3 linked regions of the Homo sapiens genome follow. The protein of the gene in region 3 interacts with the protein of the main gene of each other region in a biochemical or structural test. Each region holds a gene or a part of one and is shown on either strand. Other genes may lie near its edges.

Region 1 (10,304 bases), on a different chromosome or scaffold from region 3:
GATCCCTTGTTGGTAAGAGTTACTTTCAAGACATTCAGACATACCCTGTGTAACTGTACCCAACACAAAGCCTGGCACGTGGTAACTACTATTTAAATACAAGTAGTATTACATACAGGTTGTAGCTGAGTGTATGGATGTCTTATTTCCTCACCAATCTGTGAACTGCTAGGGAGCAGAAACTATATCACCTTCTTCTCAGCATCTTCCACAGCCTATCTGAACACAGGGACTAGCTCAAAGTAAAACTTTTATAGAAGAAATGAACAAACTAGAAGGGTAGAAATGGAAAAGAAGCACAAAGTTAAGGATGGCAATGTCAGAGATCTCACCTTTCGGTTTCTTTTGCCCCGGGTCCTGGTTGTGGGCTCCAGGCTCAACTGAGCCAGATAGTCATCTGCCAGGGCCTGGACAGCAGCAGCAACCTGAGTCTCAAGGGCACTTACGTTGGTCTGAGCAGAGGCTATCTTGGCCTGGGCCCCTTGGTCAGCATTTGGAGTCTGGCTTTCAGTTGCCCGAGCCTTAGTGGCAGCCTTCCGAGCCCTAGACCCTCTCTTGACCCGCAGGGTGGCTGCCAGGGCTTGGTTTGTGACTATCTGAGTGGCAAGTGGGGCCTCAGAGATCTCAGAGACAGAATTTGGGCCCCTGCTGGCAGCCTTCTTGCCCTTGGATTTTTTGGGCCTGATAGCCACTACTGAGGCCTCAATCTGCCTGGTAGCTGCGTCAGTGACATTTAGAGCCTCTATATGCTCAGTGTCAGTATTTATGACCTTAGCAATTGTCTTCCTGGCTTTGGAGGCTTTCTTGGTTCGGATGGAGGCTGCTGTGGTGTGGATACTGGCTGTCTCATTGGTAATTTGGCCTTGGGTGGTAGCTGTATGGGTGGCAGTTGCAGCCAGCGAGACCTCGGTGGCACTAGCTATGGCCTTATTTGCAGCCTTCTTAGCCTTGGAAGCTTTCTTAGGCTTGATAGAGGTTATCAAGGCTTGGGAACTGGCTGACTCATTGGCAATTGGAGCGTGAATATTCTGTGAGATGACTGGTAGCTTTAGGACCTGCAAGGGTGACTTCAGCTGTATAGTGCCACCCTCATGGCCAGTTGGGGATTGGGAGCCTTGGGCTGCCTTGGCAGTAACTCTCTTCATCTTGTTGGCTTTCTTAGGCTGAGCAGTGACTGAAGAAGCCTGAGTATTGGTTACCTCAGTGGTAGGTAAAGCCTGGCTGATCTGGGTAATGACTGGCAGGTTTAAAGCCTGCCAAGTTATTTTGGGCTTGTTGGTGGCAATCTCATTGGCAGCTGGGACTGGAGGGGCAGCAGGTGCAGCCTTAGTAATAGTCTTTATAGGGGCCTTCTTGGTCTTGCTTTTCTTAGGCCGGTTGACAACTGGTGGGTCCATGGCCAGGGAGTCCTTGGTTGCCGCCAACAGGGTATGCATCAGCAGGACACTGTCCTCTTCTGTGGTCTCAGTCTGTATATCTGGAGGGAAGGGAAGCCCCAGGCTCCCCGGGGGAGGCAGAGGGCCCTACACACTTAGGATTACCATCCTCTGGGCCATTTGGCCTCGCTAAAGCCCATCCCTTTCCACAAAGGCCTTCCCTTCCTCTGAGCAGTGGTTAATTAAAATGGGGTAGGGAGCAAGGAAGGAATAGAGTCAGGCAGGTTTTCCTCTCCTCTCCTTCACCATGTAAGGGAGGACTGAGACGAGTTAGGCAGGGAATTATGAAACTACACGGTGGAAGGGGTCTGAAGAGCAGTAAGTGAACTCAGGATGGGGCAGATGGCCTAGAGAGAATGCAGAGAGGCCTCACCTGAAATAGAGGCACCCTATATCCGTAGTCATTTCTCCTATCCATCTTTCTGGGAGGCCGAGTAACAGGTGAGCCTGAGGGGAATGGGCCTGAGTTAGAGAATGAGAGGGAGGGGGAGATTCATCAGACATCTCACCTATCCTGACTTAGGGGAGTCTCATGTAACCTTGGGCCCTAATCCCTTCAACTCCTGGGTTTTCATACCTAAAAAACCCAGGCCATCTGGTTTCCAAGGCCCAGCTCCTTTTGCCTCCGAGAGAGTCAGTTCTACGACCCCACCCCTTTACACGCCCCCTCCGCAACTCGATAGTGCGCATGCGCACCGACTAGAGGCGCCCCCACCCCCCATCTTAGGCCCACCTCTATCCCAAAAGAACCATTCTTCAATGCCCTCCGCGCGCATGCGCCTTGGTAAACCGGACAGTTTCTAACCAGCTCAATCCCACATCTGCCCCCTGCTCTCAGAGCAACAGAACATCTTGGCGCCACCCCGACCCACTCTTTCTAACTGCATCACATCTCGATCCAACCCTTCCCCCAACACTAGCCCCCTCCCTCCGCTCTGCAGTACCACTCCGCACCGCCCCTACCCCAACACCGCCCATCTCTCCTCTGCGGTACTGCCACGCACCGCCCCTTCCCAATACACCCCCCTCCCTCCGCTCTGCAGCATTTCTCTTCATCTTCCCTTCCTTTAATAAGCCCCCTCCCTCCGCTCTGCGGTACGTCTCTGCACCACCCCTTCCCCAACCAACACCACTCCCCCCTCTTTCCACGTCTGCAAGTGTGCAGCTCCGCCCTTTCTGCAACATGAATACCTCACCCCCAAATCCAACTGTATGAACCTTCTGTGTATTCCTGTTCTCAAACCCTACCAGGTCCTGTCTCTTCCCTTTCAAACCGGAACCAACCGGGTCATATCCCCTCCTTTCTCCTGTCTGAGTCTGGTCCTTTCCGTTGCTCAAAAGGGATGCTGCCCACTCTTATCTCTGGGTCCCGATCCCTCCATTCTGTGGCCCAAACGGGGTACTGCCCCCTTTCTCCAGCCTAAACGGAGTCCTGCCGTCTCCTATCTCCCTCCCGAACTGTGTGTATCCTCCTCCCCTCTTGCTACCGTCTGAAGGATTTCTCGATCCTTCCTTTCTGCGGTCCCAACTAGGTCTGCATCCCTCCCTTTCACGGCCCGAACCGAGTCCAGATCGTTACTTTCTGTGGCCCAAAGGGGATTCTGCCTCCTACTTCCTCCCGTGCGAACTGGGTCCAGGCACCGCTAAAGGCGACTTTGATGCGGTTAGGTCCCAAACCTCCAGCAGGTTTTCTTCAAACCTTAGGGGCGTGTGGAGTCAGGCACGTCGAAGCCGCAGCCAGGAAGCCCCCACAGGGTCTTCACTAAAGCCAGGTACCTCAGCTCACCTCGTCTTCTTGAATCCAGAAGGCGTCTGCTCTCTCCAAGCCTCTCCTTGTGTCTGAGCCTATCCCCCTCCCTGGCCGGAAGTGGTCCTGCCTCTTTCCGCCTCCAGAGGGGGGTCTCCGTTCCTGCCTGTCAGTCTCCTCCCCTCCATACCTACTTTCAACTTTCCATTCTCCTCAATGTAGCTCCCTTTTTCTTCTTACTACCCCTATTCAGTTATCACTCCCTCTTATTCTCCATTTGACTTCTCTATTCCCCACTCTGTATCTCCGTTCCTATTTGATTCTCCTGTTTCCCCTAGGAGGAATGTAGTTCTCTGAACTCCCACACCAACCCTTCCTACAGACCCTCTATCCCAACACTATTTACATAGTGTTGTTATACCTTGTGTCTATGTCTCTCTTCCCTAGAGCTGCTCTGGAGCAGGGGACTAGGTCATATTCATTTCTGTTTTTCAAGTGTTACCACATTAAAACATTTAGAGGTTCTAAACACTAAAAGATAGGGTGCCCGTCCATCTTATGCAATTCAGAATAAAAACAGTAATGTATAAAAATCTATGAAAAGTTTTTATTGATCCCACAATGACTATATTGATGTTTTAACAATATCAGTTTGTACTTAGACTGTCTCTTGTGACATGGTGCACTGTGCCCCCATGCAGAAAACAATTCATGACATTTATCTATTCCATCAATCATTCAAAAGAGAGCAAGGATAACTACACATATGTCAAATAAAATAGACTTAAAGTCAAAAACCATAAAAGATCTTAAAGGTCATTATATAATGATAATGAGATAAATTCATCGTGAATATCGAATAATTATAAACATATTTAATATATGCACCCAACATAGAAGCACCTAAATATATAAAACAAATATTAATAGATCTGAAGGGAGAAGTAGACTGCAATACAATAATGGTAGGAGACTTCAAGACCCCATCTTCAACAATTCACAGATCATCCAGACAGAAAATCGATAGGGAAACATTGAACTTGAAATACACTTTAGACAAAAAGGACCTACGGAATATTTTATCCAATAGAATATATAATATTCTCAAGCACACATAGAAAATTCTCCAGGATAGATCATAAGTTAGGCCAAAAACAAGTCTTTTTTATTTTATTTTATTATTATTCTACTTTAAGTTTTAGGGTACATGTGCACAATGTGCAGGTTAGTTACATATGTATACATGTGCCATGCTGGGGTGCTGCACCCATTAACTCGTCATTTAGCATTAGGTATATCTCCTAATGCTATCCCTCCCCCCTCCCCCCACCCCACAACAGTCCCCAGAGTGTGATGTTCCCCTTCCTGTGTCCATGTGTTCTCATTGTTCAATTCCCACCTATGAGTGAGAATATGCGGTGTTTGGTTTTTTGTCCTTGCAGTAGTTTACTGAGAATGATGATTTCCAATTTCATCCATGACCCTACAAAGGACATGAACTCATCATTTTTATGGCTGCATAGTATTCCATGGTGTATATGTGCCACATTTTCTTAATCCAGTCTATCGTTGTTGGACATTCGGGTTGGTTCCAAGTCTCTGCTATTGTGAATAATGCCGCAATAAACATATGTGTGCGTGTGTCTTTATAGCAGCATGATTTATAGTCCTTTGGGTGTATACCCAGTAATAGGATGCCTGGGTCAAATGGTATTTCTAGTTCTAGATCCCTGAGGAATCACCACACTGACTTCCACAATGGTTGAACTAGTTTCCAGTCCCACCAACAGTGTAAAAGTGTTCCTATTTCTCCACATCCTCTCCAGCACCTGTTGTTTCCTGACTTTTTAATGATTGCCACTCTAACTGGTGTGAGATGGTATCTCATTGTGGTTTTGATTTGCCTTTCTCTGACGGCCAGTGATGGTGAGCATTTTTTCATGTGTTTTTTGGCTGCATAAATGTCTTCTTTTGAGAAGTGTCTATTCATGTCCTTCACCTACTTTTTGATGGGGTTGTTTGTTTTTTTCTTGTCAATTTGTTTGAGTTCATTGTAGATTCTGGATGTTAGCCCTTTGTCTGATGAGTAGGTTGCAAAAATTTTCTCCCAGTCTGTAAGTTGCCTGTTCACTCTGATGGTAGTTTCTTTTGCTGTGCAGAAGCTCTTGAGTTAAATTAGATCCCACTTGTCAATTTTGGCTTTTGTTGCCATTGCTTTTGGTGTTTTAGACATGAAGTCCTTGCCCATGCCTATGTCCTGAATGGTAATGCCTAGGTTTTCTTCTAGGGTTTTTATGGTTTTAGGTCTAACGTTTAAGTCTTTCATCCATCTTGAATTAATTTTTGTATAAGGTGTAAGGAAGGGATCCAGTTTCAGCTTTCTACATATGGCTAGCCAGTTTTCCCAGCACCGTTTATTAAATAGGGAATCCTTTCCCCATTGCTTGTTTTTCTCAGGTTTGTCAAAGATCAGATAGTTGTAGATATGCGGCATTATTTCTGAGGGCTCTGTTCTGTTCCATTGATCTGTATCTCTGTTTTGGTACTAGTACCATGCTGTTTTGGTTACTCTAGCCTTGTAGTATAGTTTGAAGTCAGGTAGCGAGATGCCCCCAGCTTTGTTCTTTTGGCTTAGGATTGACTTGGTGATGCGGGCTCTTTTTTGGTTCCATATGAACTTTAAAGTAGTTTTTCCAATTCTGTGAAGAAAGTCATTGGTAGCTTGATGGGGATGACATTGAATCTATAAATTACCTTGGGCAGTATGGCCATTTTCACGATATTGATTCTTCCTAGCCATGAGCATGGAATGTTCTTCCATTTCTTTGTATCCTCTTTTATTTCATTGAGCAGTGGTTTGTAGTTCTCCTTGAAGAGGTCCTTCACATCCCTTGTAAGTTGGATTCCTAGGTATTTTATTCTCTTTGAAGCAATTGTGAATAGGAGTTCACTCATGATTTGGCTCTCTGTTTGTCTGTTATTGGTGTATAAGAATGCTTGTGATTTTTGTACATTGATTTTGTATCCTGAGACTTTGCTGAAGTTGCTTATCAGCTTAAGGAGATTTTGAGCTGAGACAATGGGGTTTTCTAGATATACAGTCATGTCATCTGCAAACAGGGACAATTTGACTTCCTCTTTTCCTAATTGAATACCCTTTATTTCCTTCTCCTGCCTAATTGCCCTGGCCAGAACTTCCAACACTATGTTGAATAGGAGTGGTGAGAGAGGGCATCCCTGTCTTGTGCCAGTTTTCAAAGGGAATGCTTCCAGTTTTTGCCCATTCAGTATGATATTGGCTGTGGGTTTGTCATAGATAGCTCTTATTATTTTGATACATCCCATCAATACCTAATTTATTGAGAGTTTTTAGCATGAAGGTTGTTGAATTTTTTCAAAGTGACAGACAAAAACAAGTCTTAACAAATTTAAGAATATTGAAATCACATCAAGTAATATATGCACAGTGGTATGGAACTAGAAATCATTAATGATAAGAATTGTGGAACATTCATAAATATATGGAAATCAAAAAACATATTCCAGAATAACCAATACGTCAAGGAAGAAATTAAAGGGAAAATTTAAAATATCTTGAGACAAGCGAAAATGTATATACAACATACTAAAACTTATAGAATGCAGCAAAAGCACTTCTAAGAACGAAGTTTATAGCAATAAATACATACATCAAAAAGAAAAAAGATCCCAAACAATCTAACATCACACTTCAAGGAACTGGAAAAAAAAGAACAAATAAGCTCAAAATTAGTAGAAAAAAGGAAATAATAAAGATCAGAGCAGAAGTAAATGAAGTAGAGATTAGAGAAACAATAGGAAAAAAATCAGTGAAACCAAGAGTTGGTTTTATGAAAAGATAAATAAGATTGACAAGCCCTTAGCTAGATCAACTAAGAAAAAACAAGAGAAGACTCAAAATCAGAAATGAAAGAGGAGACATTACAATTAATACCACAGAAAAGCAAAAGATTTTAAGAGAATACTAAGAACAATTATATGCCAGGAAATTGGATAACCTAGAAGAAATGGATACATTCCTAGACACATAAAACCTACCAAGACTTAAGCTTGAAGAAATAGAAAATCTAAACAGATATGTAATGGGAAAGGAGACTAAATCAGTGATAAAAGTCTCTCATCAAAGAAAATCTCCAGACCTGGTGGATCCACTGCTGAATTTTACCAAACATTTAAAGAGGAATGAATATCAATCCTTTTCAAATTCTACCAATACATTGAAGAGAAAGAAACACTTCCAAAGTCATTTTACAGAACCAGAATTACCCTGACACCAAAACCAGACAAAGACACTAGAAGAAAAGAAAATTACAGACCAGTATCCCTGAGGAACATAGATGCAAACTCCTCAGCAAAATACTAGCAAACCAAATTCAACACCATATTAAAAAGATCGTTCATCATGATCAAGTGTGATTTATCCCAAGGATGCAAGGATGGTTCAACACATGCAAATCACTAAATGTGATAGAATACCTTAACAGAATAAAGGACAGAAACCACATGATCATCTCAGTAGATGCAGAAAAGGCGTTGATAAAATTCAACAATAATTCTTGATTTTAAGAAAAAGCGCTCAGCAAATTAGGTATAAAAGGAAACGTACCTCAATACAATAAAGCTCATATACAACAAACCTATAGCTAACATCCTACTCAATGGTGAAAAGTGGAAAGCCTTTTCTCTAAGGTCAGGAATAAAGCAAGTATGCCTGCTCTCACCACTTATATTCAACATAGTACTGACATCCTCAGCAAGAGAAAGAAATGTAATCCAATTTGGAAAAAAAAGAAGTTTAATTGTCCCTGTTAGCAGACCACATAACTTTATATGTAGATAAAGAATCCACAAAAAATAACTAAGAAACAAATTCAACATACAAAAATCAGTTGTATTTCTTTTTTTAATTTTAAATTCAATAGGTTTTAAGGGAAGAAGTGGTGTTTGGTTACATGAATAAGTTCCGTAGTGGTGATTTCTGAGATTATGGTGCATGCATCACCGAGCAGTGTACACTGTATCCAATGTGTAGTCTTTTATCCCTCAACTCCTCCCAACCTTTCCCCCAAGTCCCCAAAGTCCATTGTATTATTCTTAGGCCTTTGCGTCCTCACAGCTTAACATCCACTTAAGTGAGAACATACGATGATGTTTGGCTTTCCATTCCTGAGTTAACTTCACTTAGAATAATGGTCTCCAATTCCATCCAGGTTGCTGAGAATGTGATTATTTCATACCTTTTTACAGCTGGGTAGCATTCTATGGTGTGTATATATATATATATATATATATATATATATGTGTGTGTGTGTGTGTGTGTGTGTGTGAGTGTGTGTGTATATATAAATGCCCATCAATCAACAAGTAGATAAACTGTGATTATATATAATATAAAGTATATATTACTTAATATTATATATTATATAATATATCATGATATATATACTCTTTTACTTATTTTTAAATGTACAATTAAATTATTATTGACTATATATATAATATATAATATAACATATAATATATACCTATATATCTGACAAATAACTTATATCCAGATATATAGATATATATACTAGTGTGTATACTAATATATATAAGTGTATTAGTATATATACTAATATGTATAAGTGTATTAGTATATATACTAATATGTATAAGTATATTAGTATATATACTAATATGTATAAGTGTATTAGTATATATACTAATATGTATAAGTATATTAGTATATATACTAATATGTATATTAGTATATATGCTAATATGTATATTAGTATATATGCTAATATGTATATTAGTATATATGCTAATATGTATATTAGTATACATATTAGTATACATATAGTATACATATGTATATTAGTATATATACTCACATACATATTAGTATATGTATATATATACTAATATACGTATTAGTGTATGTATATATATACTGACATACGTATTAGTATATGTATATATATACTGACATACGTATTAGTATATAGTATATATATACTGACATACTTATAGTATATAGTATATATATACTACATACGTATAGTATATAGTATATATATACTGACATACGTATTAGTATATAGTATATATATACTGACATACGTATTAGTATATAGTATATATATACTGACATACGTATTAGTATATAGTATATATATACTGACATACGTATTAGTATATAGTATATATATACTGACATACGTATTAGTATATAGTATATATATACTGACATACGTATTAGTATATAGTATATATATACTGACATACGTATTAGTATATAGTATATATATACTGACATACGTATTAGTATATAGTATATATATACTGACATACGTATTAGTATATAGTATATATATACTGACATACGTATTAGTATATAGTATATATATACTGACATACGTATTAGTATATAGTATATATATACTGACATACGTATTAGTATATAGTATATATATACTGACATACGTATTAGTATATAGTATATATATACTGACATACGTATTAGTATATAGTATATATATACTGACATACGTATTAGTATATAGTATATATATACTGACATACGTATTAGTATATAGTATATATATACTGACATACGTATTAGTATATAGTATATATATACTGACATAGTATTAGTATATAGTATATATATACTGACATACGTATTAGTATATAGTATATATATACTGACATACGTATTAGTATATAGTATATATATACTGACATACGTATTAGTATATAGTATATATATACTGACATACGTATTAGTATATAGTATATATATACTGACATACGTATTAGTATATAGTATATATATACTGACATACGTATTAGTATATAGTATATATATACTGACATACGTATTAGTATATAGTATATATATACTGACATACGTATTAGTATATAGTATATATATACGATATACGTATTAGTATATCGTATATATATACTGATATACGTATTAGTATATATCTAACAAATAACTAATATCCAGAATCTACAAGGAACTGAAACCAATCAGCAAGAAAAAACAATCCCATCAAAAAGCGGACATGAATAGACAATTCTTAAAAGAAGAT
Region 2 (9,728 bases), 3.6 Mb from region 3:
CTCTGGCTGTACCGAGGAAGCTTTGAAAATGCAGACGGGGTGCGACCTGAGCACGTATACTGTTATAATCTCCCACGGGCGATCTTGATGTGATGGAGAACCAGAGTTAAGGGGAAGGACTCTGTGGACTGAGCCATAGCTGGGACCTTCCGCCTAGGCTTCATGCTCACCCAGTGGGATGACCTTCTTGGTTTGGCATCAGTGGAGAGGAGGGTGAGAGAATGTTGAAAATGTGAGAAAGGCTGTGTGCAGTGGCTCACGCTGTAACCCTAGTACTTTGGGAGGCTGAGGCAGAAGGATTGCTTGCATCCAGGAGTTCGAGTCAGGCTGGGCAACATAGTGAGATCCTGTCTCTAAAAAAAAGAAAAAAAAGTGTGGGAGACCTCAACATCTTCAGGCTGCTGGGCTTGTGTCTCCTTCCTCCACAACAAGGCTGTGCTGTCCTCCCTCACTCTTGTTCTAATAATTTCTAATCATATCTCTTATCACAAGCAAAATTTCAAACCAGAGAACATTCACAGATTTTCATCTTCAGTGCGTAAAGCTCTATGGTGGTGGATGTGGATCAAAAGCTTTCAGAGTTGGCGGGACTTGGACATTCTAATTCAAACCCTAGCAGATGTGAGAACCCCCTCCCACTGAGCCAGTGGACAGCTGGTGAGCAAGGTCCCTCTCCATGTCTCCAGGTACAGGAGGTTGCTCCCTCTCTAGGCAGTCCATTTCCATCCTGGCTGGCTTTAATCATCAGATCCATCACTGATCAAGAGCAAAAAAGTCAGCATTTGCTAAGCTTTGACAATGAAAAATTTTAGCCTTGAGGCACATAACACAAAATTAGCAATCGAATTGACTCTATTATTCATGATGCTGCTTCCTGAGGGGTGTACCCACCACCTGTGGCTTCCTATTTAAACAAATTGTTCTGCTGTCTCTATGCTAAATGCAGCTATTTCTATACCAATAATAACATTTCAAAATGCTCCATCATTTAAAGGGATTTCGGGTGCTTTTCGGGCATTGCCTTAACCCAGAGGCAGGAAGCCTCTTTACCTGGGGCATCTAAACAAACTCTTTGCTTCTTTCCCCTGACCCCTTATGCTGGGCACAAAGCCCCTGCTTTTTATATGTAGCTCATTTATGCTTTTGTGGTTATCTTTTTGTTACAACTTTGTTGAGCTGTAATTCACATACAATATAATTCAACAATCTGAAGCTTGCAGTTCAGTGATTTTTAGTATGTTCACAGACTTGTGCAGCTTCACCATCATCAAATTTGTTTATTTATTTATTTATTTTTGAGACAGAGTTTCACTCTGTCTCCCACGCAGGCTAGAGTGCAGTGGCACAGTCTTGGCTCAATGCATGCGGCCTCAACTTTCGGGGCTCAGGTGATCCTCACAACTCAGCCTCCAGGGCAGCTGGGACTACAGGCGTGTGCCGCCATACCTGGCTAATTTTTGTATTTTTTGTAGAGACGGGGGTCTCATTATGTTGCTCAGCTGGTCTCAAACTCCTGGGCTAAAGTAATCCTCCTGCCTCGACCTCCCAAAGTGCTGGGATTATAGGTAGAGCCATTGTGCCTGCCCACCACCATCAAATTTAGAACATTCTCATCACCCCAGAAAGAAACCCTGTGCTCTTTAGCATTCATCTCCATTCCTCCCCTCCCTAGGCAACCACTAATCTACTTCCTGTCTCTATGCTTTGCCTGTTGTGCACATGTCATATAAATGGAATCATAGGGTACCTGATCTTCTATGACTGTCTCCTTTCACTGAGCATACGGGTTTCAAGGCTCATCTGCATCCAACATGCATCAGTAGTTCATTCCTTTTAATTGTAACATTAGATCGTATGGATATGCCACATTAAAGAAATCCATTCGTCATTTGGTGGACATTTGTTTTGTTCCCACTCTTTGGCTATTATGAACAAGGTTGCAGCGAATGAGATCATCAGTCCTGATCTCTAAGCAAAACTTGTTCAGATCCCGGGAGGCGGAGCTTGCAGTGAGCCGAGATTGCGCCACTGCACTCCAGTCTGGGTGACAGAGCGAGACTCCGTCTCAAAAAAGAAAAAAAAAAACTTGTTCAGACCATCTCTTCCCATGATCATGAGTGATGATAACAGCTACCTCCCCACCCCACTGGCCCCAAGACTTAATGCCACTGCTCAGGGTCTCAGGGCCTTCTCTGAATTATCCTGCACCATCAGAAGTAGGGGGCCTGGCCCTCACTCTTGGCCCACAGGGAGTGAGTGTCTCCTCCTTCCCTGGTTCACTCTCCAGGAAAGGCGGTTTGAGGCAGAGTTGTCTGGGTAGGGCAGGCACCGCAAACACGTTGTTCCCTTTTGTCCGGCAGGCAGCTGTGTGTAGACCACAATGCCTTACAAGGAGTTGTACCTGTGGGCCTGCTCCAGTCTGGTTCTCTCTTCCCTCACCACTTGGCCCTAGTCCCAGGGGCCTTCTCCTTCTGCCTTTAACCCTGAAGTCCCAGGCAGGGGCCATCAGAGAGGCCAACTCTGGCCTCTTCTCCTGCACCGAGGCTGTGCTTGGGGCATCTGGGGGAAGGTTTGGCTGGGGTCTCTGGGCAATAGAGAGATGACAAATGAGACACAAACACTTCTGGCCCTAGACGGTTCTGGGCTGCCCCAGAAAAAAAGGGCTTCCCCTGGCTGGGTAAGGTCTGGGTCAGCCCTCCAGCCTGCATACTGCAGGGTCCCTGGCAACCCCCTCTGTCCTCACCTTAAACAAGGGACACTCCTAGAACCAGGGAACCAGAAAGGTGGGGTGGAGGGGACTGGAATTTCAGGAAAGGCTTTGGGGTGCTGTTTTTTTGCTCCTTGTGCTGCCTAGATCAGGACCTGAGTGCCCCCTGCTCCCTCTAACAGCAGCGTGGGGGAGGGAAGATAGGGAGAGCGCCTGTCCTCCCTTTCCAGGGCTGCCATACCCGTCTGACCAGCCCCTCCCTCCCTCCTTCCGCCTTCCCTGTCCCAGGTTTGGCACTGGGCCCAGTCCTTCTCCCTTTGGTCTTCTGTTAAAAGCTTCTCAGCCCTGGTGGGTGCGGGTGTTTGTTGGGGAGGGGGTAGCATGCCTTCCAATCACTCTTGGGAAAATTAGGCATTGTTTAAAGGAGCTGGGAGAAGGCCTGGTGTAAATAGGTGCTAACTGAATTTCCCTTGCTCCATTCAGCATAGCAGGAGGCAGGGCCTGGGGAGGGGAGGGGAGGTGAAGGAGCCACTCACTGTGCCCGCTCTTGGGATCTATGCATTTTTCTGGAAGGGACTTCAATGTGTGGGGTGTGTGTGTGTGTGTGTGTGTATGCACGCGTGCATTGTGAAGAGAGCTTGTCTGTGTGTCTGTCTTTTTAAGTTTGTCTGTCCTCCAAGGAGGGGGCTTCTGGGTCTCTCTGTCCTTCTGGGTAGGGGTCCTATGTGCCTGTCTTTCTGTGAGCCTGGGTGTCTCTCCTAGAGAAGGATGGGGAAGAAACTGTACATCTGTCCTCCCAGTAGGTGGTCACCCCCTTCCCTGGGTCAGGGCTATGTCACCTGTCCCTCTCCTCAAGGGGATCTGGCTGTCATCTGTTGGTCCTCTGAGTTCAGTTTCATCCAGTCCCCACATCACACCCTGCAGTATCTTCCAGAGAACCCAGCCCCAGCCATCAGGTAATTGCAGGTGGAATCTCTGCCTTGGGGACCTAAACCTCCTGCCTTCCACCCACAGCATGCCCTGCCTGGCCCCACCCAGGCCTGGGGTGCCTTGCTCAGCTCCCCAATCTCCAACCTCCCACAGGTGCGTGCTACGTCCCAACCTGCCCTCCTGACTCACTTTGATAATGGGAGACAGGTGCAGGGACTCTTCCTCTATTTCCTCTGGCCCGTTGGGAGCCTGGGTAAAGCAGGAGGGTCCAGGTAGCACCACGAGTGCCACACCACTCCACTGTACCCCCTGCCGTCCTGTCTCACTTCCCATGATTCACTCACTGGGAGCAATGGGAGTGACTCCCGCAAAGAGCAAGAACTATGAAGTCCCTGACATAGCTCCCATCTCCTCTTGCCCCCCCCAACCCCTGCGTTCTCTGCCTTCTAGCCCTGTTCATCATTCTCTAGGCCCTTCAGTGAGGCCTACAGTGTTCACCTGGCCCAGGGGATCCTAGGATCTTGGAAGGAGAGGAAGCCCCTGGGTTATGTTCAGGAAAAGTGCTGTGTTGGATCTCGCTCTTTTTTTTCTTTGAGATGGAATCTCGCTCTGTCGCCCAGGCTGGAGTGCAGTGGCACGATCTCAGCTCACTGCAACCTCTGCCTCCCGGGTTCAAGTGATTCTCCTGCCTCAGCCTCCTGAGTAGCTGGGATTACACCATGGCCAGCTAATTTTTGTATTTTTAGTAGAGATGGGGTTTCACCATGTTGGTCAGGCTTGTCTTGAACTCCTGACCTCGTGATCCGCCTACCTCAGCCTCCCAAAGTGCTGGGATTACAGGCGTGAGCCACCGTGCCTGGCCTTGGATCTCTTTTTATCTTGCACCTTCAGATGTAGAGGGACGACAGCCACTGTGTGTGTATGTGTATGTGTGTGTGTGTGTGTGTGTGTGCGCGTGTGATGTTTATTCACTCATTTATTTATTCATTCATTCATTCCACAAATATCTACCCAGACCCTCTTGGCACTGCACCAGGTGCTAGGGGTAGAACAGTAACCTGGAAAGATGAGGCAAATGGTTGATTTCAGATTCAAGGCTTTGGACTCCAGCTGTTCTGTCATCCAGCTCAGGCAGGCCCTCATAATCGCTTCAATCAGGGAGAACACAGGAGAGTTTCTCTGGGGTGTCGGCAGCTCAGAGGAGACCCAAATACTAGGAGACCCCTTTTTCCCATGCTTCCCAGTCCTCCAGTTTATTTCCCCCAGGAGGGAGGGAGACAAGACCCAGGAGTCAGGGTTGTAGTGGCTGGGCGGCCCAGGCAAGTCTGCTTGTTACAGGCACTTGTGCCAGGACAGGATTTCTTCCAGTTTCATATTCACTGAACTGCCTTTTCCTGGGTTTCTGGGGGTGGTGCTGGAGTGGGCTCCAGGGTTGGAACGGGCCCTTGGGTGGCGGCAGCTCTCTGCTGCCCCCACCTGAGTCCTGCCCGGAGGTGGCAGGTGACGGGTTAGGCCCAGCCCCCTCTGGGCCTAGCCACTCAGGTACGAGGCCTTTCCCCCCCATCCCCCGGGGCTGGGATCTCTTTTATAAAAGGCCATTCCTGAGAGCTCTCCTCACCAAGAAGCAGCTTCTCCGCTCCTTCTAGGATCTCCGCCTGGTTCGGCCCGCCTGCCTCCACTCCTGCCTCTACCATGTCCATCAGGGTGACCCAGAAGTCCTACAAGGTGTCCACCTCTGGCCCCCGGGCCTTCAGCAGCCGCTCCTACACGAGTGGGCCCGGTTCCCGCATCAGCTCCTCGAGCTTCTCCCGAGTGGGCAGCAGCAACTTTCGCGGTGGCCTGGGCGGCGGCTATGGTGGGGCCAGCGGCATGGGAGGCATCACCGCAGTTACGGTCAACCAGAGCCTGCTGAGCCCCCTTGTCCTGGAGGTGGACCCCAACATCCAGGCCGTGCGCACCCAGGAGAAGGAGCAGATCAAGACCCTCAACAACAAGTTTGCCTCCTTCATAGACAAGGTGAGGGTCCCCCCTGCGTGGCTGACTGTGCCCGCAGCCCCTTTCTCCTGGTAGTCCCGGTCCCTATGCACATCTCCAGCCCCCAGCTGGCGTCCTGCTGGGCCTCACCCGCCCTGGCGACACTCTCCCTTCCATCCTCCGACTCACCCCTCCCGTGCACCTTGGTTTGGGCTGGGTGAGGGTGGGGAGAGGGTCTGGACAGCCGGGATGAATCCTGGGGCTTCCTTCTTCCCTTTTAAACTGGAGGGTCTTGGAAGAGAGAGACAACTTAAGGGTACAGCCTAGTTCCCACCACCCCTCTCTACAAATCCCGTTCTTCCTCAGGTCATTCTGTCCCCAAATTATAAAAAATAATAGCGGTTATTGTTCTCACCCCAACCCGAGTTCTGACCGTCTTTTAAGCTATCGCCCTGCGGCAGTCCCAGCTGTTCGGGGACTACCCTCCTCCAGGTTCGCCTCTTCGCCAGCACTACCCCAAGGGCTCCCCAGTGGTGCCTTTGTGATTTTTTTTCTTTCTTTTCTTTTTTTTACATAGGGGTTTGGTGTGATTCTAGCATTCTAGGAGAAGGAAGTGGGTGTCTCGGTTCAAACGGGCAAATATTGATTGAGGCCTTTGGCGCCCGGAGGCCTGAGTGCGGGGGTCACAGAATGAGTCATACCCCGGCCCCTGCGCCGGCAGCGTGGGCGGGGCCGAGGGCGGGGTGAGGGGCTGCGGGCAGCAGTCTCGGGACGCTCTCCTCCACCTGGCGGAGCTCGGCGTCGGGGGCGGTGTGGGTGGGGTGGGGTGGGGTGGGGTGGGCTGGGGTGGGGTGGAGGAGGCGCCAGGGCCTGGCCTCGGAAAGCCCATGCAGGATTCAAAGTCTGCGGGCGTGGGACGCCCCGCCCGGGGTTTACGTCCTGTTAAGTTTATGGCTTCAGATAACGCGGTCGCCCACCAACGCCCCTCGCCCATTCAGCCCGTGTCCCTTTCTCGCGTCCTGTCCCTGCTCCGCCCCAGCGGCCTGGCTCCACTTTCACACAGCAGGAGCCAGGCCGGGTTTTGCAGCCCTGGGACTCCGCTGCCTGAGGGGCCCCGGGCCCCCGGCGGCCCCGAGGATTGGGCCCTTCACGCTGACTGGCTCCTGGGAGGCATTGTGGGAACGGGAGGAGGGAAATCCTGGGGCAGAGTAAGCCGGGAGGAACCGGAGCCCCAGGAACCCAGTGGTCGGGGGCCCTTGGCGCTCCAAGCGCCTGGACTTGACTTGTTGACTGCGTTTTGCTAGCCCTGGGGTCCTTATAGAGAGCAGCTAAGCATAGGCTTTGGAATCTGAATTCTTGGTTCGCACTGCTCTGCCGGTTCCTGGTTATGGACTCCCTTGCCAAGTCTTATTTCCTCATCTATAAAATGAATATGAGAGCCCCTAAATCCATATAGGCAAAAGTTTTTGCCTATTCAAACTTACATATGTAAAGAGTTCAGCAGTGCTTGGCCCACATTCCATTAGGATAAGATGTTATAATCACTTTTTTTTAAAAAATAATTTTGGGGCAGAATGACCTGGGGAAGAAAGCGATTTGCAGAGAGTGGTGGAGGGAACTAGGCTGTACCCTTAAAAGATTTCTGTCCCCTCCAGTTTAGAAGGAGTTACAAGTTTTTTTGTTTGTTTGAGACAGAGTCTCACTCTGTCGCCCAGGCTGGAGTGCAGTGGTGTGATCTCAGCTCACTGCAACCTCCGCTTCCTGGGTTCAAGCGATTCTCCTGCCTCAGCCTCCCGAGTAGCTGGGACTACAAGTGCGTGCCACCATGCCCGGTTAATTTTTGTATTATTTGTAGGGACAGGGTTTCAATATGTTGGCCAGGCTGGTCTCGAACTCCTGACTTCAAGAAATCCGCCTGCCTTGGCCACCCAAAGTGCTGGGATTACAAGCGTGAGCCTCCACGCCCGGCCTCTTTTTCAATCTTAACATCTTTAGAAAGGTTGGCTATTTTTGGCCGGGCGCGGTGGCTTACGCCTATAATCCCAGCACTTTGGGAGGCCAAGGCGGGCCAATCACAAGGTCAGGAGTTCGAGACCATCCTGCCTAAGACGGTGAAACCCTGTCTCTACTAAAAATACAAAAAAATTAGTGGGGCGTGGTGGCAGGCAGGTGCCTGTAGCCCCAGCTACTCGGGAGGCTGAGGCAGGGGCAGGAGAATGGCATGAACTTGGGAGGCGGAGCTTGCAGTGAGCTGAGATCTTGCCACTGCACTCCAGCCTGGGCGCCGGAGACTCCCAAAGAAAGCTTGGCTATTTTTATTGATGTGTAATATACAACCTATGTAAATGAAGTTAGGCCTATTGGTTTGCAAATGCAGCTTTAACATAATTACCTTACCTGTCTCCTTCCCCTACCCAATGCTGAGGGACATTGCTCCCCACCTCACCATCATGCCATGCTTTCTCCCCCTGGTCATAGGTGATCTTTCCAGAACAGCTAACCAGGTGCCTGGGGTCTGGAGACCTTACTGCTTGAGGAGTGAATTAAGAGAAAAGACTGCTTGCTTTCCTCCAGACTTTGAGCCCTGGCCTGATGTAGACCTTTTTGCTCTCTCCTCCTTCGTATAGGTACGGTTCCTGGAGCAGCAGAACAAGATGCTGGAGACCAAGTGGAGCCTCCTGCAGCAGCAGAAGACGGCTCGAAGCAACATGGACAACATGTTCGAGAGCTACATCAACAACCTTAGGCGGCAGCTGGAGACTCTGGGCCAGGAGAAGCTGAAGCTGGAGGCGGAGCTTGGCAACATGCAGGGGCTGGTGGAGGACTTCAAGAACAAGTGAGCAACTCCCACCCTCCACCCAACTGAAGTCACCGTGCTCTCCTCCACCCCTTGGGACCTTGGGACTAAGTCCCCATGGCCCTCTGTTGTGGGAAGTGCAGTCCTATCTAATTAGGGTGACCACCTGATGAGGTTTGCTCGGAACAGTCTGTGTTTATGCCCAGGTTCCTAGCACAATTGTTGATAGTACCCACCCCCTTTCAATCTCAACTGTCTGGATTTGAAGAACAAATTATGTGTCAATGTTGACATGGTAAACCTGAGACGGGAGAGATAGGCAGCCTGTGGGCCTCACTTTTGTACTTAACATTCTGGCCCCTCTTTAGTCTTGACCCTTGACCTCTAGCAAACTCTAGAAAGTTCTGTCTGAGGTCTCATGTCAGGCCCTGCTGTTAACACTCTCAAGGTGTCCAATCCGATGTGTATTCATGGATTTGGAGAGAGATTTCCTGCTTCCCACGGGCTAAGGGAGGGGTGAGGGTGGAGAGGGCAGCTGGGGAAGGCAGAAGGACCAGCCTTCTCATATCCTGCATCTCTGTGAACTGAATTTTCCTGATTTTCACAACGCCCCTGTCTCCCAAAAGACCAAGGGCAACCTCCCTTTTGCCTTCATCCTCTAATTGTAAGTCTTTTCCTCACAGGTATGAGGATGAGATCAATAAGCGTACAGAGATGGAGAACGAATTTGTCCTCATCAAGAAGGTGAGGGAGTCTCCCTTCTCCTATCTGGACACTGGAGGCTGGGGCTCAGAGACTCAGACCAAGAAGCTTTCTGGGTTTTGTCCCTAAATATTCCTAAGTAGTGGGACAAACTCATTTATGTAAACATTTGGGTGCACAGAAAGGTAGACAAGGATGGAGTGGTAGGTGCATTTGGACAGAACTCTTGACATCGGTGTTGGGACATGGTTCAGAAAACAGAGCAGTAGAACTGGAGATCTGGCTCTAGAAGGCTCCCTAGAGAAGGAGGTGGAAGAGGGTGTGTTGCAGGAAGCAGAGGTGAAGGTGTGTGGGCTGAGAATGCACATGTGATGGGCAGAGGCTGGGCTGGAAGATCAATCCACAAAGTGGGCAACTAGAAAGTCCTGTGACCAGGCCATTGGGTGGACCTTGGGAGCCCCTTGGTTGGGGTTGGGTGTGGAAACCCAGCTCAGGCTCCCCTCTCCTCATCCCCCAGGATGTGGATGAAGCTTACATGAACAAGGTAGAGCTGGAGTCTCGCCTGGAAGGGCTGACCGACGAGATCAACTTCCTCAGGCAGCTATATGAAGAGGTATG
Region 3 (9,983 bases):
CTAAACCAGCCTGGTCAACATGGCAAAACCCCCCTCTACTAAAAAATATAAAAATTAGCCAGGCGTGGCCAGGCACCATGGCTCATGCCTGTAATCCCAGCACTTTGGGAGACTGAGGTGGGCAGTCACCTGAGGTCAGGAGTTTGAGACCAGCCTGGCCAACATGGTGAAACCCCATCTCTACTAAAAATACAAAAATTAGCCAAGCATGGTGGCGAGCACCTGTAATCTCAGCCACTCGGGAGGCTGAGGCAGGAGAATCGCTGAACCCAGGAGGCAGAGGTTTCAGTGAGCTGAGATCGGGCCACTGAACTCTAGCCTGGGAGACAGAGCAAAACTCTTCCTGAAAAAAAAAAAAAAAAAAAAGAGGTCGGGCGTGGTGGCTCACACCTCTAATCCCAGCACTTTGGGAGGCTGAGCCAGGCGGATCACGAGGTCAGGAGATCGAGACCATCCTGGCCAACATGGTGAAACCCCATCTCTACTACAAATACAAAAATTAGCTGGGCATGGTGGCAGGCACGTGTAATCCCGGCTACTCGGGAGGCTGAGGCAGGAGAATCCCTTGAACCCAGGAGGCAGGGGTTGCAGTGAGCCGAGATTGCGCCACTGCACTCCAGCCTGGTGACAGAGCAAGACTCAGTCTCAAAAAAAAAAAAAGAAGAAGAAGAAAAGAAAATTAGCCAGGCGTGGTGGTGCGTGTCTGTAATCCCAGCTACTTGGGAGGCTGATGCAGGAGAATCACTTGAACCCAGGAGGTAGAGGTTTCAGTGAGCCGACATCAGGCCCCTGTACTCCAGTATGGGTGACAGAGCAAGACTCCATCTCAAAAAGTAATAATAAATAAAATAAAATAAAATAATTTTTAAAAAAGTGAATGTGGGATTAATATTCATAATATAGTGTAATCTTATGAAGGAACAAAAGTAAAGACAGGAATCCAAAATAAAAAAAGCACAAAGGATATGAATAGGCATTTCAGAGAGAAGGAAGCTTTATTGGCTAACAAGAATATGAAATAGCCAGGCGCAGTGGCTCACACCTGTAATCCCAGCACTTTGGGAGGCCAAGGTGGGTGGATCACCTGAGGTCAGGAGTTGGAAACCAGCCTGGCCAACATGGCGAAACCCTGTCTCTATGAAAAATACAAAAATTAGCCAGGGATGGTTGTGGGTGCCTGTAATCCCAGCTACTAGGGGGGCTGAGGCAGGAGGATCGCTTGAACTTGGGAGGCTGACGTTGCAGTGAGCCAAGATCGTGCCACTGCACTCCAGCCTTGGTAACAGAGTGAGACTCCATCTCAAGAAAAAAAAAAAAGAATATGAAGTAACACTCAAACTCACTAGTAATCAGAGAAATGTAATTTTAAATAACTGAGAGTACACTTAATATACCTATTAGAATTGCAAATATTAGAGAGTTGTATAATATTACGTGTTGGAAAGGGTATGAGGTAATAAGAACTTTCAGTAATGATGTTGAGACTGTAAACAGCTACAGACCTGGGTTTTCTTGCTTGGTTTTGTTTTTCAGGGTTTTTTTTAGAGTGTCTCACTGTTATCAAAGCTGGCTTCAAACTCCTGAGCTCAGGCAATCCTCCTACCTCAGCCTTCTAAGAAGCTGGGACTACAAGTGTGTGCCATGCCCGGTTTACAGCTACAGATTTTCTGAAAAATAATCTGGTGCTACTTAGTAAAATTGAGCATGCATATACCTTACCACAGAAATTCCACTCCGAGGAATATGTTCCAGAGAAATTCTTGAACTGGTTCACAGGGGACTATGAAAGAGATAACTGTCTGGCATTGTGTGTAGAAGTCAGGAATGGGTAAGTAAAGTATAATGGATGCCTACCATGGAATCCTATGTAGCAGGTATAAGCAATGAATTAGATTATATGTAGTAATAAGGATGAATCCTGAAAACAGAGTTAATCAAAAAAAGTAAAAGCAGGCTGGCACAGTGGCTGACATCTGTAATCTCAGCACTGTGGGAAGCTGAGGCAGGAGGATGGCTTGAGCCCAGGAGTTTGAGACCAGCCTAGGCAACATAGCAAGACCCCATCTCTATACAAAAAAGTGTATATTAAAAATATATATTTTTTTGAGACAAAGTCTCACTCACTCTTTCTCCCAGCCTAGAGTGCAGTGGCATGATCTCTGCTCACTGCAACCCTCCCTTCTGGGTTCAAGTGATTCTCGTGCCTCAGGCTCCTGAGTAGCTGGGATTACAGGCATGCATCACCACGCCCAGCTAATTATATTTTTAGTAGAGACCGGGTTTTGCCATATTGGCCAGGCTGGTCTTAGACTCCTGACCTCAAGTGATCCGCCTGCCTTGGTGTCCCAAAGTGCTGGGATTACAGGCATGAGCCACCACGCCTGACCTTAAAAATTTTTTTAAAGAGGAAGTTCAAACATTATTTCTTCTTGGAGGTCTTCCTTGTTGATGCATTCAATCATATATTCATCTATCTATTGACTCATTCAACAAGGATTGAGCACTTTTACGAAGGATAATGCAAGGTACTAAAGATATGATGGTAGGCCAAAAATAGAGGGTCACCTTCATCATCTCCTTGGAGGTCTATTGGAGGAAACTGGGTTTAGTAAACATATTATGTTCACACTGATTAATATATAATTACCAACTAACATACATGCTCTGAGGAAACAAACATTACTTTTTGCGAGCACATAGCCAAGAGGTCTTTACTAGATTGGGGTGGGTGGTAGGTAGAGGGGTGCAAGGAAGGCCTGAGGAAATAACAATGGGAATCAATTTGGAGGCATAAATAGGCCAAGTGGAAGTGAAAAGGACATTCCAGAAACAGGGACCATATAGAGCAATCAGGACAAACTTGAGGAATTGAAAGAAGCCATGAAGTTGGAGATATTAATAGAAGGGGAAGAGTGGTAGAAGATGGAGGGTTTCAGTGGGGAGAGGTCAAGGGATAGTGGTAGCCTGACTTGATGTGCATTTTGGAAAGATTACTCTAGCTGCTATATGGAGAATGGAAGAGTGTGAAGAGAAAGAGAGAATAGGGGATGGGAGACCAACTAAGACACTCTTGCAATTGCCTAGGTGAGACTGAGGTGGATTAGGGTGGTGCTAACAAAGAACAAGAAAGTAGATGGGCCGGGTGCGGTGGCTCACGCCTGTAATCCCAACACTTTCGGAGGCCGAGGCAAGTGGATCACTTGAGGTCAGGAGTTCGAGACCATCCTGACCAGCATTGTGAAACCCCGTCTCTACTAAAATACAAAAATTAGCTGGGCATGGTGGCTGGTGCCTGTAATCCCAGCTACTAAGGAGGCTGAGGCAGGAGAATCGCTTGAACCCGGGAGGTGGAGGCTGCAGTGAGCTGAGATCAGGCCACTGCACTCCAGCCTGGGGGATAGAGCAAGACTCTGTCTCAAAAAAAAAGAAAGAAAGAAAAAGAGAGAGTGAGAGAGAGAGAGAGAAAGAGAGAGAGAAAAAAAAAGAGAAAGAAAGAAAAAGAGAGAAAGAAAAAAGAAAGAAAGAAAGAAAAAGAAAAAAGAAAGAAAGAGAAAGTAAGAAATTTTTTTTCTTTTTTGAGACAGAGTTTCACTCTTGTCACCCAGGCTGGAGAATGCAGTGGCACAATCTTGGCTCACTGCAGCCTCTGCCTCCTGGGTTCAAGTGATTTTCCTGCCTCAACCTCCCAAGTAGCTGGGATTACAGGCATCAGCCACCATGCCCAGCTAATTTTTGTATTTTCAGTAGAGACGGGGTTTCACAATGTTGGTCAGGATGGTCTCAAACTCTTGACCTCAGGTGATCCGCCCACCTCGGCCTCCCAAAGTGCTGGGATTACAGTCATAAACCCAGCCGAAAGTAGATGATCTTTTTGTTGTTGTTTGTTTGGTTTTTTTTTGAGACGGAGTTTCGCTCTTGTTGCCCAGGTTGGAGTTGCAGTGGTGCGATCTCGGCTCACCTCAACCTCCGCCTCCTGGGTTCAAGCGATTCTCCTGCCTCAGCCTCCTGAGTAGCTGGGATTACAGGCATGAGCCACCAAGTCCGGCTAATTTTTGTGTTTTTAGTAGAGACGGTTTTCTCCATGTTGGTCAGCCTGGTCTTGAACTCCCAACCTCAGGTGATCCCCCTGCCTTGGCCTCCCAGAGTGCTGGGATTACAGGCGTGAGCCACCGCGCACAGCCTGAAAGTAGATGAATTTTAAAGATGCATACAATTAGTAAAGATACCTTACGTATCTTTAAATTTTTTTTTATAGAAACAGGATCTTGCTACACTGTCTAGGCTGGTCTGGAACTCCTGGCCTCAAGCGATCCACCTGGGCCATCCAAAGTGCTGGGAAAGACGCCTGTAACCCCAGGCTAGACAACGTAGCCAGATCTTGTCTCTACAAAAAAACACAAAAATTAGCTGGTGGCAGGCACCTGTAGTCCCAGCTACTTGAGAGGCTGAGGTTCCCACCTCAGGAGGCCGAGGCTGCGGTGAGCTGAGATCGCACCACTGCACTCCAGCCTGGGCGACAGAGTGAGACCCTGTCCCAAAAATGCATAAATAGTAAAACTAGTGAGAGTGAATGAGAGATGGGATATGTAAAGGGAGTGGGAGGAGTTAAGGAGTAACTCCTCGGTTTCTGGCTTGTGTAAGAATAACTTCTGTGATTGGTGGGGAAAATCCACCAGAGTTCTGTTAAGTGTTGTTCATTTCCTGTCCCCCGTTAGGGGTTACCCCTTCCATCTTAAGCAGGATATTCTAGGATCTCTCAGTCTCACAGCCTTGCCCACCAATAACCAGCAGGTGAGCCCCCTCTCCCCAGACCTCTAGATCTGCAAAAGGCAACCTGGAGGCAAGGAAATCCCCAGCTGTGAGTAGCCATTCAATTCTGGTGCTGTGGTAACTGAGTTCAAAAACAATGAGTCTTGTTACCTACCCGTAAAATGAAAGACACCTCATCAGACACCTCACTGGATTGTGAGGCTCCAAGGAGCACACATATTGTTAGGCTCAGTTCGATTCCCTCCAGCCCTCTCCGCCCGTTTGAAGGCAGTTCCTTATCCCGGAGACAACGTACAGATGTTCTCTCTTTCCCTCTTTATTTTTTTTAAGACAGGGTCTCTGTTGCCCAGGCTGGAGTGCAGTGGCGCGACCACAGCTCACTACAGCCTCAACCTCCTGGGCTCAACACGATCCTCCTGCCTCAGCCTCCAGAGCGGCTGGGACTACAAGCGCGCACCACTGCACAGGGATTATTATTATTATTTTATTATTTTGTAGAGAAACGGGTGGGAGTGGTCTCGCTATGTTGCCCAGGCTGGTCTCAAACTCAGCTCAAGAGATCCTCCCGCCTCGGCGTCCCAAAGTGTTGGGATTACAGGCGCCTGCCACCGCGCCCGGACGCAGATATTTTCTATGGGCATCTGGAATGGCGTCCCCAAAGCTTGGCGCCGTGCTATGGTCAAGCCGGGTCGGGGGCTCGGGCCAGCCTTCAACACCGTTGGCAGCAATCGGAACGATCAACTGTACCCTCAGTACCGCGACCTCGCCCGGTCCTGCCAATGGCCGGCCCCTAGCCGGTCCTGAGGCCTCGCGAGAGCTCCCGTGGCTACGCCTTCCCCGGCCTCGGAACGGCCCCATCCTTCCTCTTTCCCCGCCTCCCAGCGGCGCTCCACTCTCGGATTGGCTGATTGATCCGAGTCAGTTTTTTTCCTCGCCAGAAAGCGGTTCGACAATTGGTCCTTCTTTTGGCCCCTCCTGCGATGCCCGCGGATTGGACGGCTGAGTCTGGCTACGCGGGCCTCCGCGGGAGCGCGACCGGGCCAATCAAGAGCTTGGCGTATTTTACAAACTGAGAAAGTAGCTCCAGCAGCACCCGAGAGGGTCAGGAGAAAAGCGGAGGAAGCTGGGTAGGCCCTGAGGGGCCTCGGTAAGGTAAGGCACGGGGGTCTTGAAGGGAACGAAGGCTGCTGGGTTCATAGGGAGGAGGGCAGTTTGGGGCCCGAGGGCGAAAGAGTAGGCTCGGGGTGTCTGGAGATAGCACCCATAAGAGCGGTCTTGCAGGCGCCGGGGGCTTGTGGGCGCGTGGATTAGGGCGGAGGTATCAGGGATGGCAGGACAGGTGCCCCGAGAACTGGTTGATCTTTGATCTTAGATTCTGCCTGCCTTCTTCCCCGTCTCAATTGTAGCCATCATGACCACCCGGCAAGCCACGAAGGATCCCCTCCTCCGGGGTGTATCTCCTACCCCTAGCAAGATTCCGGTACGCTCTCAGAAACGCACGCCTTTCCCCACTGTTACATCGTGCGCCGTGGACCAGGAGAACCAAGATCCAAGGGTAAGAGGGGCCTAATGGGGGAAGACAGTAGTCACACCAGTAATGCACCCCAACACTAAACCTCACCTTTTTGTCCCCGCTCCCTCCCCTAGAGATGGGTGCAGAAACCACCGCTCAATATTCAACGCCCCCTCGTTGATTCAGCAGGCCCCAGGCCGAAAGCCAGGCACCAGGCAGAGACATCACAAAGATTGGTGGGGATCAGTCAGCCTCGGAACCCCTTGGAAGAGCTCAGGCCTAGCCCTAGGGGTCAAAATGTGGGGCCTGGGCCCCCTGCCCAGACAGGTACCTGTTGGAGCCATGGTAACACGGCCTCCATGGCTGAGTAGGGGACTAGGAAGGGTAAAAGTGGGGTTTTGGGGTTTTGCACTCACTCCTGCTGTCTCCTACTTACTGTGATAGTCCTGGTCCCAGCTCCTGGAAAGCTCTTTGCTCTTAGAAGATCTCCCTTTCCTCCAGCAAAATGTCATCTCGCCAGGTGCCATGGCTTGTACCTGTAATCACAGCTACTCAGGAGGCTGAAGCAGGAGGATCACTGGAGGCCAGGAGTTGGAGACCAGCCTGGATGACAGAGGGAGATCCCATCTCTTTAAAAAATAAATAAATAAATAAATAATAAATATCACTTCTTCTGAAGCCTTTTCCAGTTCCCCATGTCACAATCAGTTGCTCTGTGTTCTCCTAATACTTTGCAGCACTTCTTTTATAACATGTATATACCTTGGCTTGAGTCTGTTACCTGTCTATAGTTTGATGATAGCCTCTTGAGGATAGGGGCTTTGTCTTATTCTTATGGGACCCCAGTGCTTAGAATAGTGTCTTATGTAACATTCTATGAACATTTGGTGACCAGGTGTGGTGGCTCACGCCTGTAATTCCAACACTCCTCCGAGGCAGGAGGATCATTTGAGCTCAGGAGTTTGAGACCAGCCTAGGCAACATAGTGAGACCCCATCTCTTTTTCTCTTTTTTTTTTTCTTTTCTTTTTTTTTTGTGGAGACAGAGTCTTACTCTATCCCTCAGGCTAGAGTACAGTGGCATGATCTCGGCTCACTGCAACATCCACCTCCCAGGTTCAAGCGATTCTCATGCCTCACCCCGAGTACCTGGGATTACCAGCACCTGCCACCACACCCAGCTAATTTTTGTTTTCTTTCTTTTTTTTTTTTTTTTTTTTGAGACAGAGTCTCACTCTGTCACTAAGCTGGAGTGCAGTGGCACGATCTTGGCTCATTGCAACCTCCACCTCCCAGGTTCAAGTGATTCTCCAGCCTCAGCCTCCTGAGTAGCTGGTACTACAGGCGCGCGCCACCAGGTCCAGCTAATTTTTTTTTGTTTTTGTTTTTTGTAGAGATGGGGTTTTACCATGTTGGCCAGGCTGGTCTCAAACTCCTGACCTCAGGTGATCCACCTGCCTCAGCCTCCCAAAGTGCTGGGATTACAGGAGTGAGCTACCGCACCCAGCCAATTTTTGTATTTTTTTAGTGGAGACAGGGTTTTGCTATGTTGGCCGGGTTGGTCTCAAACTCCTGACCACAGGTGATCCACCCGCCTCGGCCTCCCAAAGTGCTGGGATTACAGGCATGAGCCACTGCACCCAGCCATCTATTTCTTAAAAAAAAAAAAAAAAATAAGCCAAATTCAATTGAATGAGTCTCTTGCTCACCTTGTACCTCAAAGTTCCTATGCTAGGGGCCCTATCCCCCTCAGCCTTCCCCCTTCCTTTTCCTTCTCCTCTTTCCTTGCAGAGGCTCCAGGGACCATAGAGTTTGTGGCTGACCCTGCAGCCCTGGCCACCATCCTGTCAGGTGAGGGTGTGAAGAGCTGTCACCTGGGGCGCCAGCCTAGTCTGGCTAAAAGAGTACTGGTTCGAGGAAGTCAGGGAGGCACCACCCAGAGGGTCCAGGTAATGAAACAGGATGTGAGGAGACCAGGCTAGGGGGCACTGAGGGGGGCATCCTGAGCAGTGCTGACAGCCTCTGTTGGTGTCCCAGGGTGTTCGGGCCTCTGCATATTTGGCCCCCAGAACCCCCACCCACCGACTGGACCCTGCCAGGGCTTCCTGCTTCTCTAGGCTGGAGGGACCAGGACCTCGAGGCCGGACATTGTGCCCCCAGAGGCTACAGGCTCTGGTGAGTGCCCTTGAGGGGCTGATAGTCGGTGCTTCTGGGAGCTCCTTCCAGGGACAAAGCTGGGCTCTGGGAGAAGAGGTACCTCATGATGAGGCAAGGGATCCTACTGGGGGAGATGGGGTTGGTGGTGAGGCCTGAGGGTTTGGGGTCCACCTCTGATTCCGTTTTCATCTCTTGCTCCTGTGGATCAGATTTCACCTTCAGGACCTTCCTTTCACCCTTCCACTCGCCCCAGTTTCCAGGAGCTAAGAAGGGAGACAGCTGGCAGCAGCCGGTGAGAAAGGAGAGGGTGTGGGAGAAGGTCATCTGGAAAAGAATGAACCAGTGTCTGATACAGGAGTCCCCCAGAGTTGGGGCCTTCCAGGAGCTTTAGGACTCCCCACCAACTCAGGAGGGGAAGCAAGAAACCTGTGATTACCCGGGATGAGCCCTTGGGATAGGGTTCAGGCTTTCACAGCCAGGCCTCAGTGTGACATCAGTTTACTCAAGTCATGGGGGGACAGGGAGGACAGAAATGTGCTATCTCTTTTGTTTAGTGGCTAGAGTATAGACTGTGGCAATAAGTGGGATTTGGGTTTATATCCTAACTCTTAACACTTACTATTTGTGCAAGCTTGCCTTCACCTCTCTGAGCTTTGGTTTCTTTGTCAAGTGAGAATAACATTTGTACCATCATTAGTTGTCATGAGAATGAAATGAGATGATGTTTGTAAAGCACTTAGCACATGTCCAGCTCATACTTGGTATTCAGTGACTGCTGGCTAATGTCCTTATTGTCATCAGGACTTCAGTGAGCCAGGCCTCAGGATTGCTCCTGGAGACCCCAGTCCAGCCTGGTAAGTGTTTCTGGCGTGGGGAGAGAACAGGGGCAGTTGGGCTGCCTGAAGCAGGGAACAAGACCAGAGAAAACTCAGCAGGCTGGGAGGGAGCATGAGGAAGTGGGAGGCCGGGAGGCTAGGTCAGAAGGAGAAGGAGAAGAGACCTTCTAGATAGGCCAGCGATTGGCACAGTTGCACTTTTGTCTAAGGAGATGGTCTCCATTTCGGCCCTCTCTCTGCCACTTCCTGCAAGATTTATCTTCCACTCACTGTTTATCCCCAGCCCCTAAGTGCCATCACCACATCCCCAGCCTACTCAGACGTTCAGATTAATAAGTGTTTACTGAGATAGTGTTGGGTGTTGAGGGGCTGCTGGATGGGTTCCTGTCCCTAATAGTGCAATGGGGCCTATTAAACTAATATACCCTCTTCAGAAGTTGCAGAACACTGTGCCAAACTTTGGTGGGTGTTCTAGAGTCTACAACAAATGTCCTGTTTCTTCCTAGCTTTCTCTCTTCCTAAAGGAGAACGCGAGGTTGTCACTCACTCAGATGAAGGAGGTGTGGCCTCTCTTGGTCTGGCCCAGCGAGTACCATTAAGAGAAAACCGAGAAATGTCACATACCAGGGTGAGATGCGACTCTCCTGGGATGGTGGGTGGGAGGTGCAGGAGTTGCTTGGAAGAATTTTGCTGCAGCAGCCAACACTG

Evidence for each region.
Region 1: the proteins of TROAP (region 3) and TRO form a complex in vitro, tested with the Homo sapiens proteins (one study listed by BioGRID).
Region 2: the proteins of TROAP (region 3) and KRT8 form a complex in vitro, tested with the Homo sapiens proteins (one study listed by BioGRID).

What each region holds. Positions count from the first base shown.
Region 1 is NC_000023.11:54,913,797-54,924,100, reverse strand, and holds the start of TRO (trophinin), read right to left. Parts: upstream 3,278-10,304; 5' UTR 3,223-3,277; exon of another isoform or gene 3,136-3,222; intron 3,114-3,135; exon of another isoform or gene 2,633-3,113; intron 1,899-2,632; 5' UTR 1,855-1,898; coding exon 1,810-1,854; intron 1,524-1,809; coding exon 333-1,523; intron 1-332. UniProt on the Homo sapiens protein: Could be involved with bystin and tastin in a cell adhesion molecule complex that mediates an initial attachment of the blastocyst to uterine epithelial cells at the time of the embryo implantation. Directly responsible for homophilic cell adhesion.
Region 2 is NC_000012.12:52,900,583-52,910,310, reverse strand, and holds the start of KRT8 (keratin, type II cytoskeletal 8), read left to right. Parts: upstream 1-5,234; 5' UTR 5,235-5,283; coding exon of another isoform or gene 5,284-5,329; coding exon 5,330-5,653; intron 5,654-8,238; coding exon 8,239-8,447; intron 8,448-9,091; coding exon 9,092-9,152; intron 9,153-9,627; coding exon 9,628-9,723; intron 9,724-9,728. UniProt on the Homo sapiens protein: Together with KRT19, helps to link the contractile apparatus to dystrophin at the costameres of striated muscle.
Region 3 is NC_000012.12:49,317,428-49,327,410, forward strand, and holds the start of TROAP (tastin), read left to right. Parts: upstream 1-5,827; 5' UTR 5,828-5,922; intron 5,923-6,176; 5' UTR 6,177-6,181; coding exon 6,182-6,325; intron 6,326-6,417; coding exon 6,418-6,610; intron 6,611-6,719; exon of another isoform or gene 6,720-6,727; coding exon of another isoform or gene 6,728-6,847; exon of another isoform or gene 6,848-6,961; intron 6,962-7,064; exon of another isoform or gene 7,065-7,149; intron 7,150-8,073; coding exon 8,074-8,231; intron 8,232-8,319; coding exon 8,320-8,457; intron 8,458-8,648; coding exon 8,649-8,731; intron 8,732-9,240; coding exon 9,241-9,293; intron 9,294-9,781; coding exon 9,782-9,903; intron 9,904-9,983. UniProt on the Homo sapiens protein: Could be involved with bystin and trophinin in a cell adhesion molecule complex that mediates an initial attachment of the blastocyst to uterine epithelial cells at the time of the embryo implantation.